Linked DNA regions of Homo sapiens: region 2 is linked to region 1. The links come from fine-mapping of genetic effects on plasma protein levels. A gene starts in region 1. The other region holds a variant in brackets. All regions are shown on one strand. Distances are between the middles of the regions. Region 1 holds the start of OSMR (oncostatin M receptor). Region 2 overlaps OSMR (oncostatin M receptor).

What was found. PIP is the chance, under the fine-mapping model, that this variant and not a neighbour inherited with it causes the effect. The UK Biobank Pharma Proteomics Project read protein levels with antibody pairs (Olink). The fine-mapping took linkage between variants from a reference panel, not from the people measured, so its PIPs are less certain.
Region 2: its variant is fine-mapped to the plasma level of the OSMR protein (UK Biobank, PIP above 0.99). The variant lies in the coding sequence of OSMR. If it changes the protein, the assay may bind it differently, which can mimic a change of level.

Annotation. Positions count from the first base shown.
Region 1 is chr5:38,844,280-38,847,298 of GRCh38, reverse strand. OSMR (oncostatin M receptor) reads right to left here and starts at 1,287. Exons shown (of 18, transcript NM_003999.3): 1 at 912-1,287. OSMR-DT (OSMR divergent transcript) reads left to right here and starts at 1,470. Exons shown (of 4, transcript NR_109951.1): 1 at 1,470-1,631.
Region 2 is chr5:38,882,516-38,885,015 of GRCh38, reverse strand. OSMR (oncostatin M receptor) reads right to left here. Exons shown (of 18, transcript NM_003999.3): 5 at 905-1,189. Among named protein-coding and RNA genes, the nearest start is that of OSMR, 38 kb to the right of the region's middle. The variant T/C (reference allele first, on the strand shown) is at 967.

The DNA.
Region 1 (3,019 bases):
TAGGGGCTGGTTCACAGTAAGTATGAACCATTATTATTTGCAGACAAGGAAACTAAGAGGTGATAAGTAGTTTGACCCATGTTCCAAAGTCAGTTTTAATCTTGGGAATAAAACCTAAAAATTTCTTTCTCCTCCATCAGAATTCCTTCTAGCTCAAACTAAGTATCCTACATTCAATTCTATCTTCTCTGCCTTCATAGACCCTTCCATTTACTTCTCTTGAATATCTTGTTCCCAAAGTGTTTTCAAGGCAGGTCTGTTACCAAGCCACTCCATCAGCAGCACCTAGCACTGTGCCTCCCGCAGCAAGGCAGGCAGGATGGATGGACGGATGCAGGCATGCATGGGTAGGTGGATGAAGGGCAGATGAAGAACTATCGAGAAAGGAATCGCGGTGTCAGGGGTAAAGCCCTGGCCTGCGAGAGCCGGGCTCGGATTTCAGTGCCCTCACAGCTAGCCATATGGCCTTGGACAAGTTACTGAACCCCTCCGTGCCTAGGTTTCCAGAATGTAGAGGGCCACTTCCACTCAAGTGGCTGGAGAAGAAGGTAAGCGCCCCGGACGGACGCTATTGCAGAGTCGCCCGGGGATTCCTCTCTCCACCTGTGCTTGAGCTCCTCCCGCTTCTACGCTAGGGACCAGGTGGGAGAGATACACGGATTCCCAGAAAAATGGCTCTCTCAGGTGGGAGTCAAGGGTTACGAGAGGAGAGGTAGGGGAAGCAATGAACTCCTCCACACGATGTGTTGGGAGAGAGGAAAGAGGGATTCAAGTGGGAATTTTCCACTCAACAAACATTCCACCATCATTTGAGAAAAAGGCGCTGGGATGGTGAATTTCAAACAGTCTGAGAAATGGGCGACTCGGCACTGTGCGGCCTGTAAGGAATGAATCATTTAGTTTTCACCCACCAGGTAGGCAGGCCGGGGGCGAGGACCCTCCGAGCGCCGTCCGAGCGCAGGTGGTAGCCCAGCCAAGCAAACGCTGGGCAGAGGCGGCACCGAGGAGGGGAACGGGCTGCTGCACTCCCGGTCGCGTCCAGCCGGGATGGGCTGCGAAGTTGTCGGATTCTTTCCCGCACAGCACGGGGCTCGCCCGTCGGAAAAGCCACCGAGGGCGGCGCAGCGGCAGGGCGCGAGCAGAGCGGGGACGGGCGGGTCGGGGGTACTCACGCCGCGGGCGAAGGGCTCCACGAGCCGGGCCGAGTCCTCGGCGGCGCGTGGGGCGCGGGTGCGGGCTCCGGGGCGGACGTGCAGAGGCGGCCCGGGCCGGGGCTATGAATCAGCTGCGGGGCAAGCGCGGAGGGGCGGGAGTTACTGGAAAACCGCGGGGGAGGGCAGAGGGGTGAGGTCTTTTGCAATTTCCCGTCTTGCTGCGCACTCTTGGCACTCCTGGGACCCACAGGAATTCCCTCCCTTCAGTCCCGGGGGGAGGCGGCCGCGATCCTGGGGGAGGCGCAGCCTCACAACCCGGACTTTGCGGGCGGGCGGGCACTGGTGAGAAGAGGAAGTGGGAGAGGCCTGGGAAGGAAACTTGGAAACCGAAAACTCGGCGGCCGAGGCTCCGTGCCCCGCGCGCAGCGCTGCTCCTGCCCCGGCCAAGGACGCACGGGCCAGCCGGCGGAACCAGAGGTAAGCCGAGTGACCGATGAGGCCTGGGGCTGTGTATCCCACAGGGGCACTTGTCATCCCAACCCAGAGGCCAAACCCGTGAGATCCCCGTCCGAAAATCTTCAGGCAAGAGAAGTCCTTTAACTAAATTTTGGCCGTGTTTCCATTTGGCGTCCAGAGCAACGAAAACGTGTTTGAACCGAATCAAACGGTCCCCATTTTTCCCCTACTCGCGTTCTATCCAGAAACGCCCTGTCCGACAAAGTTTCTTCGGCTACAACAGTCCCGAAACCTTTATTTCCCAATGCTACGACATGCTACACATGGTTTACTTTTCCCCTTAAAAATGCCATCCAATCTTCAACCTTTTTTTTTTTTTTTTTTTGAGACGGCATCTCACTGTGTCACCCAGGCTGGAGTGCAGTGGCGCGATCTCGGCTCACTGTAAGCTCCGCCTCCCGGGTTCACACCATTCTCCTGCCTCAGCCTCCCTAGTAGCTGGGACTACAGACGACCGCCACCACGCCTGGCTAATTTTTCTATGTTTAGTAGAGACGGGGTTTCACCGTGTTAGCCAGGATGGTCTCGATCTCCTGACCTCGTGATCCGCCCGCCTCAGCCTCCCAAAGTGCTGGGATTACAGGCGTCAGCCACTGCGCCCGGCCAAAAATGCCATCCAATCTTTACCGTGTCTGGGCCTTTGAAAGGTGCATTTCACCTCTCTTAGAGGATAACAGGAGCCTTCCGAGGCAGCCTCGGACCGGGAGCTCCCATAGCCTCGCCTGTCTGGATGCCTGACAAATCAGCAGGCAAGGGGCCTTGCTCCAGATCAGCTGAGCCTAGTTTGGTTTGAGTTTGGGGACCCTGGAAAGTATCACAAAAGCAAGGTTGTAGGAGGGGGGTGGGGGAGGGAACCAAGAGTGATCAACAAGTATCGACCATAAACATATCTTAGAATCCTATATTGAATTGACTGGATGACTCAAAATAATGTCAGAATTATTTTAAAATGTTACTTTTGTGTTTGTTCACATATCTGGCTCCTCCCCAATGTCATCCCAAGGAAAGCTGAGAGTCCTTTTGTTTTTTTATTTTTCCTAAAACAAAGGCCTAAAGGCCCTAATACACTTAATACCTAATGGGGCCACAAAGACCATGATGCATAGTAAATATTTGATGATAATAAAATGTATTTTTGTCTCAATAAATGTATGGTCCTTTGCCACACCTCTCATTACTTGAAGAGTTTTAAAGAGTCCATTAGTTTAGCCATCTGCATGGTTATGGAAACTGCCAAGCCCAAGAGTTGGAAAGTCTTTATGATTTTATATTTTACTGAGAAAAAAAATTATTCTTTATAGAAACAGTTAAAAGGGATCTCTCTTCTAGCAAATGAGATGTCAAATAAA
Region 2 (2,500 bases), 38 kb before region 1:
CTTCGGGGATGCAAGGAAATCAGTCAGATTTGTACACCTGCTAAATTCAACAGGCAGGAGCTGAGTGTTCAGGGAATGGCAAAGCACCTCCAAATCCCCAGCGTTACTGCTGCCCTTAGTGGTCATGCTAAGGGGACATAGATGAACCAGGCATCCAGGAGACTGGAGACTGACTTTGGCAAGGGAGGCAGGGAGGGAGATGTTCCCTACTGTGCAAGGGAAGGAGATGCTCAAAATACAGGAGGCCACTAGTTGTGCACACACAAACCTATATAAAAAAATGTTCCCACTCCACTAATGTATCCGATGGAACCAATTTACTGCACAGTTAAGAACAGTAATGGCCTCCATTTGCTGATCTCCTACTGCATGCAGCTATTACTGGGGCTAGGCACTACCCACATTCATTAATCCTCACAATCACCATCACTGTCCCCATTTTACAAAGGAGGAAACTGGCTCAGAGAGGCTAGGAAACTTGGCGAGATGACACACCCAGCCAGGGAAAGAAGATTCAAACCCAGGTCTCCTAGGCCACAATCCTGGCTGACTCCATGGTTGTCCAATCTGTAGCTCCTACCCTCCCTCCATGATCCCGAAGTAATTCCAGCATGGCTGGGCAAAAAAGGGTATTTTCCCAGTGGTCCAGGTCATGACCTGAACTGTGTCTTCTTTAATACTATTGATTTCTAGGAATACAACTCTCAGTAAGGACAAGAAAACAACAGGAAATCCTGGAAATATTACTAAAGGACATCGACTTCAGAGCCTCTCCTAGAAAACTTGGGAAACAAAAGAAAATCAAGATCATGGGTAGAAATGTTTATTTGTCTTCTAGTAAAGGAGATTTAATCTATTCCTCAGGAAATGAGAAGAAAGGGCCACAGAGAATTTGCACACTTACTTGAGACAAAAAGAACGATGCCTTTCATGCCTTCACTGACATTTCCTTGACTTGCCTCACAA[T/C]AGATATTTGTCCCTTTATTCCTAATGAAAGGCACACTATTCAAGTTGAATGCAGTTACATGTGGATCAAGTTGTTCTCCATGAATCTGTTTCCCTTCCAAATAACAGGATACATTATTTTGAATGTTCCTAGAAACGTAACAAATGGTAACATTGGTGCCTTCTTCCACCAGCTTATCTTTAGGGAAAACGAACAATATATCCTGTCCAGTAGAATCTTGTACTGCAAGAAAAAAAAATAGCCAAGTTAGAATCGCACTCAAAATTCAAGCCTCTTAAAACAAGTTATCCATTTGCCTTCAGCAGATAACTTTAGCTTTTTCTACCTCCTGGAGAAAATAGCAACCTAAATTTCTCTGCCAAACCTCTACCCTCTGGTGCATGCAAGACAATCCTTTCCACCACTGCTCCTATTGTTACACTGATACCACTGCTGTTGCTCTTACTGCCACAGACAGCACATTACTATTACCACTCTGATAATTGCATGATTGCTATTGCTGGGTTATTGTAACTGCTTTCTATCAAGTCCCAGCCCTGCTGAAGGCCATGTTAAGTGTTTATGTACATTATCTCATGTCGTTCTTAGTACCTTACAACAACAGGTCAGGTAAGACTTAGCCAAAGTTTGCTCAGTTAGAAAGTGGCAAAGCCACATTCAGACTGGCAAGGTCTATGCATCTCCAAAATCCCTCGTAATCTCTTCATTGTACTGGAGATCATATCTCTCCCTACCTTCTCAGAAATGCGAGTCCCTCAAGTGTGAGGGGTCTTTAAAACATTCATTTTTAAAAGTTTTTAAAAAATCCAACCTTCAAGCAATTCTTGTGCCTCAGCCTCCTGAGTAGCTGGGACTACAGGCATGTGCCACCACACCCAGCTGATTTTTTGTATTTTTAGTAGAGCTGGGGCTTCGCCATGTTGTGCAGGCTGGTCTCAAACTCCTGAGCTCAGGCAATCCGCCCACCTCAGCCTCCCAAAGTACTAGAATTACAGATGTGAGCCACCACACCCAACCTCTTACTATCTTTTTAATATCTTTTCTTTCCCTGTGTATGTGTCCTTCTTTCCATAGTAGGATGTAATAGTTAAGCACATGACCTCTGGAGCCAGACTGTCTGGGTTGGAGTTCCAGCTCCAGCACTTAGTGGCGTGGTGACCTTGCATGGCTTCTTTAACCTCTCAGTGCCTCAGTTTCCTTATCTGTGAAGCGAGGATAAGAAGTCCTTTTATAGGACTGACATGAGAACTAAATATGTATAGTACTTTAAAAAGTGACTAGGTCATAGATTTAATTCAATTATTATTATCTCATTAGTATTATTAGTTTAACGTGCGCAAATAATCTCATTTTTCAAATAACACACCACTTTCATTTTTCCATATTCCACCCCCCTTCCCCCCACCCCGCCGTCTAGATTCGGGGGAGCTACAATTTGAGTCCACCATCTGTTGTTTTTTTGGTGTGTGTGTGAGAGACAGAATCTTGCCCTGTGGCCCAGGCTGGAGTACAGTGGTGTAATCTAGGCTCACT